2 linked regions of the Homo sapiens genome follow. The protein of the gene in region 2 interacts with the protein of the main gene of each other region in a pairwise test. Each region holds a gene or a part of one and is shown on either strand. Other genes may lie near its edges. The genes, in order: LZIC and ZNF558.

What was found.
Region 1: the proteins of ZNF558 (region 2) and LZIC interact in binary tests that used the Homo sapiens proteins (3 or more experiments, as listed by UniProt).

The regions. Positions count from the first base shown.
Region 1 is NC_000001.11:9,925,894-9,934,037, forward strand, and holds the end of LZIC (protein LZIC), read right to left. Parts: intron 7,006-8,144; coding exon 6,910-7,005; intron 6,080-6,909; coding exon 5,998-6,079; intron 4,565-5,997; coding exon 4,506-4,564; coding exon of another isoform or gene 4,463-4,505; 3' UTR 4,436-4,462; coding exon of another isoform or gene 4,419-4,435; 3' UTR 400-4,418; downstream 1-399.
Region 2 is NC_000019.10:8,828,774-8,837,656, forward strand, and holds the start of ZNF558 (zinc finger protein 558), read right to left. Parts: upstream 3,532-8,883; 5' UTR 3,436-3,531; exon of another isoform or gene 3,306-3,435; intron 2,629-3,305; 5' UTR 2,545-2,628; intron 2,119-2,544; exon of another isoform or gene 1,997-2,118; intron 1-1,996. UniProt on the Homo sapiens protein: May be involved in transcriptional regulation.

The sequences.
Region 1 (8,144 bases), on a different chromosome or scaffold from region 2:
TTTTTTTTTTTTTTTTTTGAGATGGAGTCTTGCTCTGTTGCCCAGGCTGGAGTGCAGTTGTGCAATCTCGGCTCACTGCAAGCTCCGCCTCCCGGGTTCACGCCATTCTCCTGCCTCAGCCTCCTGAGTAGCTGGGACTACAGGCGCCCGCCACCACGCCCAGCTAATTTTTTGTATTTTCAGTAGAGACAAGGTTTCACCATGTTAGCCAGGATGGTCTCGATCTTATGATCTGCCCGCCTCCGCCTCCCAAAGTGCTGGGATTACAGGTGTGAGCCACGGCGCCCTGCCGACAGTTTTAATTTACATACTAATGCTGGAAAACATTTTGGAAGGCAAAGAAGAACATTCACTGGTCTTAGCAATAAATAGAATAAAAAAGAAAAACGTGGACAGAAAGGTGGTTGAAAGGCTCTAGGCAAAATGGTCTGGGTTTATTTTTTTCTATAGTAATTTCAGATTATCCATCATTCACTGTAATAAGATACCATTTCAGTGGTGGAGTTGCATAGTCTTTTATTTTTCTAAAGATGACCATTCCATGTTTAATGTCTTCAGAGAAGATCTAAAAATCAAAGTTAACAACCCATTTGTCCCAACTCTAACTCTTCCTGGGAACAATTCCTCATTCTGTTACTTGATTTCTTCCTTTACCACCCACATAAAATATGTCTTACTGCTCACAAGATCAAAAGAAAACAGAACAAAACATTGAAACATCAGAATTGTTTAAAACACTAGATTTCATTCAATGGTCCGATTGGACACTTGCTCATTGGAACTTATTTCTGCTTCAGCTCTAGTTCTTTGAGAAACACAAGAATTCCTTTCACCAAAATATTAGCCTGACACAAGAATGTTGAAAGGTTAGCTGCCTTAGCTTTATTGCTGCCTATAATCTCCAAAGATATCTGAACACCTAGAAGATTAAATGTAGCAAGAAGTGGAAGAGAAACACAGTTTATAAGTCATTTAATAACTATAATTGCATAGAATTTACTCACTTTTCAAATACTTATTCTGAATGAATACCAAATTTGTGAAACAAAATATATCCTATGGTGCTTAGAATGGTTGTTAAATGGTGAGTTAGTTTTCCAAGTAAAAACTTTACGTGCATTAACAGAGGGGAATGCATAATAATCCTATGAGGTAGGCCCTATTATCCTCATTGAATAGAAGAGAAAAGGAGGCTCAAAAAAATTAAGTAACCCACAAAAAGTCACACAGCTGTGACTGTCAGTGTCCTGCTGGGCACTGCAAACTAGGCCACTTTTAAAGTAAGATCATTTTAAATTGAGTACTCTTACTTACAAAATGAACACATTAATGTGATAATTGACAAAATATTTCAGATGCTGGACTTATAGAAAGTTTAAGGAAAACCAAGATTAAGGATTCCAGATTCAGGTAACTCTCTTTATCTTTTTTTTAGACAGGGGTCTCACTTTGTCAGCCAGTACAGTGGCGTGATCTCAGTTCACTGCAACCTCTGCTTCCCAGGTTCAGGTGATCCTCTGACCTCAGCTTCCTGAGTAGCTGGGACCACAAGTGCATGCCATCACGCCTGGCTAATTTTTTTTTTTTTTTTAGAGACAGGGTTTCACCATGTTGGCCAGGCTGGTCTCAAATCCTGAGTTCAGGCGATCCGCCCACCTCTGCCTCCCAGAGTTCTGAGATTACATGCGTGAGCCACTGTGCCAGGCATTAGGTCCCTTTCAAATTCAAGATATTCCTAATTTTTCTGGTCTACTATTGCAGGGTAAGGGAAGAATCTTCTTCCTCTTTTTTTTTTTTTTTTTTTTTTTGAGACCGTGTCTCAGTCTGTCGCCCAGGCTGGAGTGCAGTGGCGCCATCTCGGCTCACCGAAACCTCTGCCTCCCAGGTTCAAGTGATTCTCCTGCCTCAGTCTCCCAAGTAGCTGAGACTACAGGCACCTGCCACTATGCCTGGCTAATTTTTGTAGAGATGGAGTTTCACTGTGTTGGCCAGGCTGGTCTTGAGCTCCTGATCTTGTGATCCGCCCGCCTTGGCCTCCTGAAGTGCTGGGATTACAGGTGTGAGCCACTGTGCCCGACTGGTGGGAAGAATCTTCTATGGCTTAAAAAACAAACGTAGGCTGGGTGTGGTGGCTCAGGCCGGGTATGGTGGCTCATGCCTGTAATCATCCCAGCACTCTGGGAGGTTGAGGCGGGTGGATCACCTAAGGTCAGGAGTTCGAGACCAGCCTGACCAACATGGAGAAACCCCATCTCTACTAAAAACACAAAATTAGCCAGGTGTGGTGGCGCATGCCTTAATCCCAGCTACTCGGGAGGCTGAGGCAGGAGAATCGCTTGAACCTGGGAGGCAGAAGTTGTGGTGAGCCGAGATCACGCCATTGCACTCCAGCCTGGGCAACAGAGTGAAACTCCATCTCAAAAAACAACGACAACAACAACAACACAACAACAAACGCAGCAATTCCATTCCTAGGTGTACACCCAAAAAAATTGAAAACAGGTATTCAAACAAATATTTGTACACAAATGTTCACTGAAGCATTATTCACAATAGCCAAAAGAAGGAAACAACCCAAATCATCAACAGATACCGGATAAACAAAATATGATATCCATACAATGGAATATTATTTAGCCATAAAAAGGAATAAAGTACTGATACATGCTATAATGTTGGTTAAACTTGAAAATATGATGATGTCCCGGTGTGGTAGCTCACACCTATAATCCCAGCACTTTGGGAGGCCGAGGCAGTTGGATCACCTGAGGTCAGCTCAGGACCAGCTGGGCCAACATGGTGAAACCCTGTCTCTATACTAAAGGTACAAAAATTAGCTGGGCGTGGTGGTACACACTAGTAATCCCAGCTACTTGGGAAGCTGAGGCAGGAGAATCTCTTGAACCTGGGAGGCGGAGGTTGAGATTGCGCCATTGCACTCCAGCCTGGGCAATAAGAGTAAAACTCTGTCTCAAAAAAAAAAAAAAAAAGAAAAGAAAATATTATGCTAAGTGAAAGAAGCCAGATACATAAAAAGGTCACATATCATATGATTCCATTTATATGAAATATCCAGAATAGGTAAATCCACAGAGACAGGGTGCAGATTAGTGGCTATTGTTAGCAGTCGGAGGAGAAGGGAATGGGGACTAACTGCTTAATAGGTATAGGGCCTCCTTTGGGGGTGATAAGAATGTTCTGCAACTAGAGAGTAGTGATGGTTGCACACCACTGTAAATGTTCTGCCAACGAATGGTACACTTTAAAATGGTGAATTTTATGATATATGAATTTCACCTCTTTTAAGTTCCAAATAAGGCATCAGTGTAGCGGAGGTCCTCTAATCTGTCTGGTTGGCAAAGCACCTAGTAGTTTACAGTACAGAAGAAGCTTTAAAAATGCTTTTAATTTGTATAAAGTGCAAAGAAAAAGAATATTGAGAAGCACATGAAAGAATATAAAATGGCTAGAGCCTAAAAAATAAGCTAATATACACGCATAGGGACACATCTGCATATTTGAGCATACAGAGACATGTAAATACTCAGGAGAGAAATTTGCTTTTCCTCATAACTTATTTTGTGTTTCTCCAAAACCTGAAGAGTAGATAACAGCTGACAGTTACCCCCCTCTGAGTGTGACAAGAGGTCACGCACAGGGAGGGCCTCTAGCTGCCATTTCCTGTTGCTTCCCTGGTCAAACAACGCAGGCGGCTAAGTCACTTTAGGAAACGCTCAACAGGGCTCCCATTGTTCCAACCTCAAAATTCCGAGATACAACGGGCCCCATTAATACAGACAGCTTACAGGCTGGGGGATGGTCCCTTAGTGTGCAGTCCACTTTTTATTGGGACACTGAATTTTCAAAAACACTGACTTGCACAAATAGTGTTAATTATTTTTTTTAAATGGTACAGAAATAAAATTCAAAAGATACTAAACTGGGAGTCAGGACACCTGAGTCTTACCCTCAGCTCTCTGATGCGACTTTAAGCAAAGTCGCTTGCTCTTTCTGGACCTCAGTTTCCTTGTTTGTAAAAACAGAAATGATTTCTAAGATCACTCAGAATTGTAAAATTCTATGAACACTTATGAAGTCTATTGAGCTTGCGTCACTGTTCACTCCAATGAGTGGGGATAAGTTGTAAGCAGAAAAATATCATTACTTCACATCTTTTCGTTCACTATCAACACTTAAAAACAAACAGCCTTAATAAAAATCAAGTCCACTTTGTTTTCTCTCTTAAACAGACAAATCATAACGAACAGAGTCCAGTGAGTCCCTCTGTCGCAACAAGTTCAGGATCACTCAAGCAGGTAACCGCACACAACGCACAATGATGAAGAGCATAAACACAAGCCATAAGTATATTTTTATGTCGCTTTTTCTTAGGTTATTGATGCATTTCCAGAATCTCTTCATTTCTTTGCAATAACTGAAAACCCCAGAAGAAAGACACCATTTACATTAAGAATGTGATCAATGTTACAAGCTTCTGCACCATGTCATTTTTTTGTTTTTTCAACCTCAAAACTTGCCAGAGCAAGAATTTTGTCTCCAGAGCCTAAGAAAAAAGACACATAATAAACAAAAAGATTATTTCAAGTGCAGTTGCAATTCCTGGTAAAGTGGGAAAAAATCTATCATATAGATATTAAAACAGAAAATATAATTAGCCTCCATTATCAGTGTATTAACCCCTACACGTTCCCATTGCCATCCCAATTTCCTTCCCTCTGCACAAACAATCCAGCTACAAAGGGGGACTTATTAGTTATAAATCCTTATTCTAGCTATGAAATATAATATGTAAAATTTAATTTATTTATTTATTTATTTTTTTGAGATGGAGTTTCGCTCTTGTCGCCCAGGCTGGAGTGCAGTGGTGCGATCTCGGCTCACTGCAACTTCCACCTCCTGGGTTCAAGCAATTATCCTTGCCTCAGCCTCCCTAGTAGCTGGGATTACAGGCACGTGCCACCATGCCCAGCCAATTTTTGTGTTTTTGGTAGAGAGGGTTTCACCCTGTTGGCCGGGCTGGTCTCGAACTCCTGACCTCAGGTGATCCACCCACTTCAGCCTCCCAAAGTGCTGGGATTACAGGCTTGAGCCACCGCACCTGGCCATAAAATTTATTTTAAAACATTTCTGTGAAAAAAAAAAATAAAGAAAGAAGAAATATTTTTTGCGGGGAGACAGGTCTTGCTCTGTCACCCAGGCTGGAGTACAATGGCATGATCTTGGCTCACTGCAGCCTCAAATATCTGGGTTCAAGTGATCCTCCTGCCTCAGCTTCTCAAGTAGCTAGAACTGTAAGTGCATGCCACCACACCTAGCTAATTTTTTTTCTTTTTAATTTTGTTTATTTATTCATTTATTTATTTATTTGAGATGAGTCTCGCTCTGTCGCCCAGGCTGGTGTGCAGTGGCACAATCTCGGCTCACTGCAAGCTCCGCCTCCTGGGTTCACACCATTCTCCTGCCTCAGCCTCCCAAGTAGCTGGGACTACAGGTGCCCACCACCACACCCAGCTAATTTTTTGTGTTTTTCGTAGAGACAGGGTTTCACTGTATTAGCCAGGATGGTCTCGATCTCCTGACCTCGTGATCTGCCCGCCTCGGCCTCACAAAGTGCTGGGATTACAGGTGTGAGCCACCGCACCCGGCCTTGGCCTCCCGCTTTTTAATTTTGAAGACAAAGGGTCTCACCATGTTGCCCAGGCTGGTCTAGAACTCCTGGCCTCAAGCATATAATTTTAGTTTTCTGTTATAGTTACGTCTACCTGACAAGTATTTTAAAAACATTAGGCTGCATTAATTTATTTTTAATATTGGGGAATAAAACCAATACAATGGATTTATAAAGAAAACAATTCTGGTTTCACTCTTAAACTCAAGGAAAGGTTATTATGTTATTTCAACCACACTCTCCATCAGTTTGTATGTAATATATGACAGTAGTATACGACCAGCTTTCAGAAATATGAGGGCACTCACCAAGGTCTGTAGAGACTTTCTCAAACTGGCTGAGTATAGCACCTGCATTTGCTGACAAGAAGGCCTCATCATCTGCAGTCAGCTAAACAAAATGAAACAAAGTCCAGTTGAGTGGGTAAATGTTACAGGTGGTTCTAGAAACCAGGTAAGAATGTCTTAGGAGGCTGGGCACCGTGGCTCACGCCTGTAATCCCTGCACTTTGGGAGGCGTGGGGGGGGGGGGGGGGTGGATCACATGAGGTCAGCAGTTTGAGACCAGCCTGGCCAACATGATGAAACCCCATTTCTATTAAAAATACAAAAAATCAGCTGGGCGTGGTGGTGCACGCCTGTAATCCCAGCTACTCAGGAGGATGAGGCAGTAGAATTGCTTGAACCTGGGAGGCAGAGGTTGCAGTGGGCTGAGATCGACCCACTGCACTCCAGCCTGGACAGCAAGGGCAAAACTCCGTCTCAAAAAAAAAAAAAAAAGGTAGAGGGGAGGGCCGGGTGCGGTGGCTCACACCTGCAATCCCAGCTCTTTGGGAGGCCGATGTAATCCCAACACTTTGGGAGGCTGTGGCGGGCGGATCACCTGAGGTCAGGAGTTCAAGACCAGCCTGGCCAACATGGTGAAACCCCATCTCTACTAAAAATACAAAAATTAGCCAGGCGTAGTGGTGGGCACCTGTAATCCCAGCTACTCAGGAGGCTGAGGCAGGAGAATTGCTTGAACCCAGGAGGGGGAGGTTGCAGTGAGCTGAGATCGCACCATTGCACTCCAGCCTGGGCAACAAGAGCGGAACTCCGTCTCAGAAAAAAAAAAAAAAAAAAAAGAATGTCTTAGTACCACAAACTAGACCACAGATCAAGATGTTCTGTACCAAATAATTCATACTTTTTCTTTGTAACTAATATATTAAATACTGGTACCTTCTCTCCAAGTTTCCTAAGAGCTGTTAGTATCTCCACTTTCTGTTGAGTGTACAGGTCTCTTTCCAGCTTTCCTACCATCAGATCTCTATCCATCTAAAACGTATGAATGCAAGGCATATGTTACTTAAGTGAAAAACATTCCATATACAAAATATAGCTTTTCAGGCCAGGCGCAGTGGCTCACGCCTATAATCTCAACACTTTGGGCGGATCACGAGGCGGGCGGATCACGAGGTCAGGAGACCAAGACCATCCTGGCTAACACGGTGAAACCCCGTCTCTACTAAAAATACAAAAAAAGTAGCCAGGCATGGTGGCAGGCGCCTGTAGTCCCAGCTACTCAGGAGGCTGAGGCCGGAGAATGGTGTGAACCCGGGAGGTGGAGCTTGCAGTGAGCCGAGATAGCGCCACTGCACTCCAGCCTGGGTGACAGAGCAAGACTCCACCACAAAAAAAAAAAAAAAAAAAAAAAAAAAAAATATATATATATATATATACACATACATATAGCTTTTCAGACGTACTTCTTAAAAAAAAATCCTCTAGCTGATTAATATTATAAAGAACTACAGATATAATCCAAGGCAAATATGATAGAAATGTTAAATGCAGTTCTAGTAAATCATCTAGTAAAATATCACCTCTTCCACCAGAAACACTAATAGCATGTACCACACATTGGGAATATTCAAAGTACTTTTACACATATTACTTCATTTAATCCTCATAAGAACCATAAGAGGTAAGGACTATCTTTGTCATGTTTTTACAGACAGAGAAACCTAGGCACAAAGGGGATGAATAAAATAAGTTGTCCAGGCCAGGTACAGTGGCTCATGCCTGTAATCCCACCACTTTGGAAGGCTGAGGTGGGTGGATTGCTTGAGCTCAGGAGTTCAAGACTATCCTGGCCAACATGGTGAAACCCTGTCTCTATGAAAAATACAAAAATTAGTGGGGTGTGGTGGTGTTGTGCCTGTGGGCCCAGATACTTGAGGGGCTGAGATGGGAGACGCTTGAGCCCAGGAGACAGAGGCTACAGTGAGCCGAGATTGCATTACTACACTGAGCCTGGGTGACAAAGTAAGACCCTGCCTCAAAAACAACAACAACAACAAAAAAACAAAAAACAAACAAAAGGCTAGGCGCAGTGGCTCCCATCTATAATCCCAACACTTTGGGAGGCTGAGGCGGGCAGATCACTTGAGGTTAGGAGTTCAAGACCAGCCTTG
Region 2 (8,883 bases):
TAACATGGTGAAACTCTGTCTCTACTCAAAATACAAAAAATTTGCCAGGTGTGGTGGTATGTGCCTGTAATCCTAGGGACTGGGGAGGCTGAGGCAGGAAAATCACTTGAACCTGGGAGGCAGACGTTGCAGTGAGCTGAGATCGTGCCATTGCACTCCAGCCTGGGTGACCAAGTGAGATTCTGTCTCATTAAAAAAAAAAAAAAGGCCGGGTGTGGTGGCTCATGCCTGTATCATCTCAGCACTTTGGGAGGCTGAGGCGGGTGGATCACGAAGTCAGGAGATTAAGACCAGCCGGGCCAACATGGTGAAACCCCGTCTCTACTGAAAATACAAAAATTAACCGGGCATGGTGGTAGGCGCCTGTAATCCCAGCTACTCAGGAGGCTGCGGCAGAACTGCTTGAACCCGGGAGGCCGGGGGTTGCAGTGAGCTGAGATTGCAACACAGTACTCCAGCCTGGGTAACAGAGTGAGACTCCATCTCAAAAAAAAAAAAATTCCTTGCCTAAAAGCCACTGGGGAGGCCAGGATTTGAACATTTAATGTCTGGTCCTCCTTGCTTAGTGCTGTGCAATAAAAGCCTTTCTATCTATCGTAGCAACCCTCAATATAGACATCTGGTTTCACTGCACCACCAGGTGAGCAGACCCCAGTTTGGTTCTGTAACAACTTAAGCTCTCAAGCTAAATATCCTTCCCAAGAAAGCTTCCCTGTTCCCTCTGATCAAGTTCACTAGTGCCAAGCTCCCACATCACTCCTGTCATTCATGGTTTAAAATTTATCTTCCCTGTTAGAAGGTAAACTTTATGTAGGACAGGGGCCATTTCAGGTCCTCCAGGGTCCCTGTGCATCTGACCTAGGACCTGACTCATGGAGGCGACCTGGTTTGCCAAGGATTGTCCCGGTTTGAACACTGGATGCCCTGTGCCCTAGCAAACCCCTTGGTCCTGAAAAAATGAGGATGGTTGGTCACCATTAACTGTGCACTCAAATAATATCTATTGCATGATAAGTAAACATTCCTTCAAGAATGCTGTAGGAAAGCTAGAATGGAAAAGGTGAACACACACACAATTAGTAGAAACCCCACAATTTAATACTAGATTACTTAACATGATTCTCTGCAATATGAATCACCATACTGTTATTTCAGAGAAGTTTTAAGAAACAAAGTTAATTCCTATTAGGAGGTGATATCGTTGGCTCTGTGTCCCCCCACCCAAATCTCATCTCGAGTTGTAATAATCCCTATGTGTCAGAGGAGGGTCCTGGTAGGAGGTGACTGAATCATGGGGGCGGACTTCCCCCTTGCTGTTCTCCTGATAGTAAGTTCCCACAAGATCTGATGGTTTAGAAGTTTGGCGTTTATGTCTTCTCTCTCTCTCCTGCTGCCATGTAAGACGTGCCTTGCTTTCCCTTTGCTTTCTGCCATGATCGTAAGTTTCCTGAGGCCTCCCCCGCCATGCAGAACTGAGTCAATTAAACTTCTTTCCTTTGTAAGTCACTCAGTCTCAGGGAGTTATTTATAGCAGTGTGAAAACTCTCAGGTAGTTCTTTATAGCAGTGTGAAAAAGGACTAATACAGGAGGCAAGGTGCAGAGGACAATCTTTTTGGAAACCAGTTCCCTACCCTTCAATCTATAAGTTGTTGCTTAATATTCTTCCAAATGTTTTCAAATCTCATTAGGAAAAAAAAAATCCCATTACTCAAAACACATCTGGTCGCCGGTCAATTTAATTTTAAATTTGTTACTAATAAATCATCCTTTTTACAAATGCCCTTATATTTTGAAGTTTGGTGGAGGGCCAATATGCCTTTAGAAATCAAATCAACAGCTGGGTGCGGTGGCTCTTGCCTGTAATCCCAGCACTTTGGGAGGCTGAGGTGGGCGGACCACTTGAGGTCAGGAGTTAAAGACCAGCCTGGCCAACATGGCAAAAACCTGTCTCTACTAAAAATACAAACAAAATTAGCTGGGCGTGGTGGCACTTGCCTGTAGTCCCAGCTACTCAGGAAACTGAGGCAGGAGATTTGCTTGAGTCTGGGAGGTGGAGGTTGACATGAGCCAAGATCGCGCCACTGCACTCCAACCTGGCCAACAGAGTGAGACTTGGTCTCAAGAAAAAAAAAAAAAGTCAAATCAAACAGGCCTGAAAAATGTTGCTAAGTAGTCCTGCTAGTTGTTAGTGGGAAGACTTGTAACACTACATATACATGTAAATATTTTCTATACTTATATAAAATTCAGAAACTTTTAGCATTACGGCATACCAGAAAATCTGTCTTTAGCTACAGTTACACATCTTTACGTTATTTGTATGTTTGTTTTGTGGATACTTATTTGCATGTAACTGTATTTACTTATTTACACACATGTAACCATAAACACCTCTGTCTTTTTACCTTGAACTTTCCTTAAGATACCTTCACTCTTAGTGACTTCAATGTGGTTACAACCCCAGCACAGGAAAAGCCCACGAGGAGTTCTTCTACACAGCAGAGCCTGCTGAAACCTTGTTGTAGGTTCCACACTGTACTCACCTGGTCACCCAAAAACCCACAACAACAGGTGGACCTTGTGGCAGGCTTCAACACGAATCTGAGCTTGAATGATGCTTTTCTCATCTGAAAAAAAAAAAAAGACACAAAGATTTCTTTCGAGGCTTTGTATAGGTTGTACAGTTGTTGGATACGGCTGCCGGAAACACCATCCCATTCACTTTTTTTGGGTACTCAATGATTAAATGTGTAATAAGGGCCCAGCCTGTGGGCCATGACTGGCTTTACCTGATTCCCATCTGGCCATCTGCTCCGTAAGAGGGGAGAAAGCAGCTTAACGCTGTGTGCATTTGACTTGCTCAACTTACTACGCTGGAGAGAGATTCTATGGTGACTCCACAGGCTTTAAAAATATCTTGTCACTTAGAGGCCCTATTAAGTGACTAAACTGAATTTTTAACAATTTATGTAGTTTATTCAGAACTGCAGAGATTTTTTTTTTAAGGCCCTAGAGCAGGGTTTCCCAACCTGGCACTACTGATAATTCTTTGTTGTGGGGGACTGTCCTGTACAACGTAGGATCTTTAAGAGCAAGCAGCGTCCCTCTTCCCCGGCCTCCACCCTCTAGGTGACAGTAGCAGCCTCCCCTCCCCACAATTTGTGAAAACCACAGTCGTCTCCAGCTACAGCCAAAAGTCCCCTGGGGTGCGGAATCGCCCCGGGTGAGGGCGACTGGGGTTCCCTGAGGAGGCAACAGCGGCGCGGGGCCCCGACCCAGGAGCAAGCAGCAGCTTCGTGCTGACCTAAGCTCACAGCCCGAGGCCTCATGAACCGAAACACGGCTCCCTGGAGGGACGCAGGGCCCGTGGCTGGCGGTGTCCGCGGCCCACGTCGCCCCCTGGACTCGGACCCGAGCCCCCGCCAGTCGCTCACCGAGCCCGGCCCCTCCCGCGGGGCCAAAAGCGCCGACTCGCGGGGACGGAGGGACTCGCTCCCCGCTGCCCCACGCGCGGCCCCTCCCACGGTACCGCCCCGCGCTTCCGCTTCCGGTCTGGGGAGAGGTGCGCTGCACGTCCCCTTCCGGCTCGCGCGGGCAGCCTCGCAGAGTCGAGCGTGTTGGGGGTTCGGCGCTTAGGCGACAGGCGCGGCGGGCGGGAGCGGCGGCCGCGAACCCCAGCCTTGGGCAGAGGTGTTCTAGTTTGCTTAGTGGGCACAAAGTTGGGCCCTGGCCTGGGGCAGTAGCGGGGGTAAGGTTGGCCCTGGGGGCGGGGCCAGGCTGTGAGCCGCACGAGGCCTGGGGGCGGGGCTGGTTGTGGGCGGAGATCAGTTCCGGGGCGGGGCTGAAGGCGGGGAACCGGCTGAGGCCGTACCAGGCCTGGAGGGCGAGGCTGATTGGGCAGAGACCAGTTCCAGGGTCGGGGCTGTGGGTGGGGCCCAGTTCTCGGGGCGGATGGTATAAGGCTTCTAGAGCGGGGATGACTGAGCAGAGACCAGTTACAGGGGTGGAGACCTCCATTTCCGGGGCGGGGCTGAGCGGGAACCAGGCTGTGGTTGTGACAGCCCTGGAGGTTGGGGCTGGCTGTGGGCGGAGATAAGCTCCGGGCCGGGCGGAGGGCGGGGACTAGGCTGTGGGTGTACCGGTCTTGGAGGGCAGTGGTGATTGGCAGAGAGCAGTTCTAGGGGCGGAGCTATGGGGTGGCAGCAAGCCTGGGGGCGGGGCTGACTGTGGGCGGAGACCAGTTCTGGGGGCGGGACTGTGGGCTGCACCAGGCCTGGGGAGGGGGCAGTGGGTGGAGACCAGTTCCAGGGGCAGGGATCTGGGTATGAATAAAAGGGTGTATGATGTGGGTGGGTTGGGATAGGCCCAGGAGCCAGGATTGTGGGAGATCAGATTCAGGGGTAGGGCCTTCCTTGGATCCCTAGATTGTTGATACAGTTACTGCCCCATGTTCATACAACCCAATAGGATCAGATTATGTATGCACATTTGTCTATAACTTGCTTTCCCAAGGCAGAACATAGTGATTTAACACTAAGAGTTTAGGGGAGCAGGAGAGGACTGGGTCATAGATACACATATAGGAAAACTTAAGAATGGTACAAAGTCAGTCAAATATTCTCCCACCACGGTCTTTCAGTTCTTTTGCTCAGAGGCAAAAATAATTTTCTCCTCTATCTTTCCAGATATAGTGTGGACATGTATGTGTGTGTATGTGTGTATGCCGTAGTCATATTCATGGAATAAATGCTATTACCTCCCCCCCAACAAGTCTCTGTTTTATACACCATGGATATAGACTGAACAAAATAGGTAAACGTCCTTGCCCTCAGAGAACGTGCATTTTAGTTGTGAGTTGGGCAGGAGAAATGGACAGTGAATGTGATAAATAGAATACATGGTGGGTTGGTGCGTTAGATACCACTAAGTGCTGGTTGGACCTGGTGGCTTACGCTTGTAATCCCAACACTTTGGGAGGCCGAGGCAGGCAGATCACCTGAGGTCAGGAGTTCGAGACCAGCCTGCCAACATGGTGAAACCCCGTCTCTACTAAAAATACAAAATTAGCCGGGCGTGGTGGCGGATGCCTTGTAATCCCAGGTACTTGGGAGGCTGAGGCAGGAGAATAGCTTGAACTCGGGAGGTGGAGGTTGAAGTGAGCCGAGATTGCAGCCGGTGCACTCCAGCCCGGGTGACGAGCAAGACTCCATCTCAAAAAACAAAACAAAACAAAAACCAAAAACCATAAACAAAAAAAGATACTGGTAAGTGCAAAGGGAAAAAATTTTATGTAAGAGAGTGGTAACATTTAAAATCAGCCAGGAAGAAATACTTTCAATGAATGATATTGTTTCATGCACCCGTCCTTTCAGAAAAAAATAGTTAGATCTCTGCTTCCCAAAAATATCCATTTTCAGGTGGCTGAAGGAAGTTTAAGCAAAAATGAACAAGTTCAAAATTCAATATACTAGGAAAGTTCACTGTGGAAAGACTGTTCTCTTCAACAAATTGTGCTGGGACAACTAGATGCCAATATACAAAAGAATGAAATTGGGCTGGGCGTGGTGGCTCACGCCTGTAACCCCAGCACTTTGGGAGGCTGAGGCAGGCAGATCACGAGGTCAAGATATCGAGACCATCCTGGCTAACATGGTGAAACCCCGTCTCTACTAAAAATACCAAAATTAGCTGGGCGTGGTGGCGGGCGCCTATAGTCCCAGCTACTCGGGAGACTGAGGCAGAAGAATCGTTTGAACCCAGGAGGTGGAGATTGCAGTGAGCCGAGATCACCCCACTGCACTCCAGCCTGAGAACAGAGCGAGACTCCATCAAAAAAAAAAAACAAACCAAAACCAAAAAAAAACAAAAAAAAAACCAACCAACCAAGAAACAAACAAAAAACAGAGAATGAAATTGGACCTCTACTTCACACCATGTACAAAAGTGAGCTCAAAATAGATCATAGACCTAAAGGTAAGAGCTAAAACTATAAACTTCTTGGAAGAAAACATAGGTGTCAAACTTTGTGATCTTGGGTTAGGCAATTGTTTCTTAGATATGACATCAAAAACAGGTGGCGAAAGAAAAAATATATAAATTGGACTTAACATTAAAAAACATTGATGCTTCAAAGGACACCATCAAGAAAAAAGACAAACATGGACTGGGTGAAGACATTTACAAATGATTTATCTGATACATGACTTGTATTCAAAATATATAAAGGCTTGCGACTCAGCAATAAAAAGATACCCAATTAAAAGTGAACAAAGAGTTTTTTTTTTTTTTTCTTTTTGAGGTGGAGTCTCCTTCTGTCACCTAGGCTGGAGTGCTGTGGCACCATTTTGGCTCACTGCATCCTCTGCCTCCTGGATTCAAGCGATTCTCCTGCCTCAGCCTCCCAAGTAGCTGGGACCACAGGCGTTCACCACCACGCCTGGCTAATTTTTGTATTTTTAGCAGAGAGAGGGTTTTGCCATGTTGGCCAGGCTGGTCTTGAACTCCTGACCTCAAGTGATCTGCCCACCTTGGCCTCCCTAAGTGCTGGGATTACAGGTGTGAGCCACTGCACCCAGCCTGAAAAATGAACAAAGAGTTCGAATCGTCATTTCTACAAAGAAGATACACAAATGGCAAATATATACATGAAAAGATGCTCGGCCCCATTAATCATTAGGGAAGTTAATATCAAAACTTCAATAAAATACTACTTCACACCCATTGGGATAATTAAAATTAAAAAGATAGCCAATAACAAAGATTGGCAAAGACAAGGAGAAATTGGAATTCTTATACATTGCTGTCAGGATTGTAAAATGGTGCACCCACTTTGCAAAATAGTTTGGCAGTTCCTCAAAAAGTCATAGAGTTGCCACGTGACCCAGCAATTTTATTTCCAGTATATGCCCAAGAGAAATGAAAACATGTGTTCACATGACAGCTTGTACATGAATGTTCATAGCAGCATTATACATAATAGCCCAAAATTTTGTATGTCCCAAATATCAGTCAACTGATGAATGGATAAATAAAATGTGGTATATCCACACAACGGATTATTATTCATCCATTAAACAGAATACATATTCCATGGATGAACCTTGAAAACATTACGGTAAGTAAAAGAAGCCACTCATAAAAAACCCACATTTTGTATAATTCAATTTAAATAAAATTTCCAGAATAAGAAAATCCAAAGAGACAATAGATTAGTGGCAAATGTTGGGGAAAAGGGAAATGAGGGGAAGTGGGTAATGGTATGGATTTCATTTTAGATGAAAATAAGATTAGATAGTGGTGACGATTGCGCAACTGTGTGAATGTACTAAAAACCATTTTACACAAAAGTGTAAAAACTGTACACTTTAAAAGGTTGAATATTATGGTAGCTCAATAAAGTTTTTATTTAAAAAATGTAGAATTATACACATAAATTCTTCAGTTAGGCATAATAAGAGAATAAAAGTGGAAAAATAAAATACTACATAAATATGAGTGCTTCTTCCTCAAAATAATAGAAGAAAAGTGGAAAAAGTAAAATACTACAAAAATGTGAGTTCTTCTCTTCTTCCTCTTCCTCCTCCTCCTTTCTTCCTTCTTCCTTACTCCTCCCCTTCCTCCTCCTCCTTGTCCTCCTCCTTCTTCTTTCTTCTTTCCTCCTCCTCCTTCTTCTCTTCCTTTTCCTCCTCCTCCCCCCCTCTCCTCCTCCTTCTTTCTTCTTTTTTCTTTTTTTTTGGAGACAGGATCTTGCTTTGTCACCCAGGCTGGAGTGCAGTGGTGCAAACATGGCTCATTGCAGCCTCGACCTCCTGGGCTCAAGTCATTCTCCCTCCTCAGCTTCCCGAGTAGCTGGGACTGCAGGCGTGCACCACCACGCCCAGCTAGTTTTTGTATTTTTTATAGAGACAGGGACTCGCCACACCACAGAGGCTAGTCTCGAACTCCTGAGCGCAAGCAATCCCTTTGCCTTGGCTGCCCAAAGTGCTGGGATTTTAGGCATGACCCCATCGTATCCAGCTTAAGTGTATCTTAATTTTCCACACCATCACATTATTAAATGGCAAAACAAACTGGGGATAAATAATTGTAAAAATCTATGACATGTGGGCTCATATCATTATTACATAAAGAATATTTTGGATAAATAAGCAAAAGATGAACAAGCCAGTAAAAACATCATCAAAGACAAAGGCTATGAACCACACACTCCTTTACAAATACATACAACTGCCCAATACTCTAATTAGCAAAGAGGCATAAATTAAAATAATGGCATTATGTTTGTGCCTCTCAAGTAATGCAAAACATTTTAAATGGCCAGTTTGTCAAGACATGAAGAAATGAATGACCTCGCCCTCTGCTAGCAGCATTGATAAGTACCAGTTTCTCAGCAGGTACTTGGTAACATATACCCAAAGCTGTACGAATGTGCATATTTATCAACCCAGCAATTTTACAGTGATCTAAATCAGAGAAATGTTTGAACCTTGTTAAAAAGGATTGATCATCTACCTCCTATTTAATATGACAGAAGATTAGTAACAATGGCAAAATAAGTACTGGTGTAGCCGTATGAAATGACATTCATGGGCCTTAAAACAACAATGTCAATGTACATTTAGTTATATTAAATTACAATCGGGATATATTGTTAGATGTGAGAAGCTGGCTGCAGAATGAAGTCGGCAGTGTGTATCCATGTTGTAACCCACAAAGTCTAGGAATATAAAATTCCAGGGCTCGACAACCACTTAATGCCTGGACCCTTTCTGCCTCGAATGGGGGTGGCTAGAAACTTCTCTGGCTGGAGGGCAGAAGGCAGAGTGCAAAGTTTTGCCTCAAGCCTTGTGACAGGGATAAAGACCCTCACCCTTCACACTGGC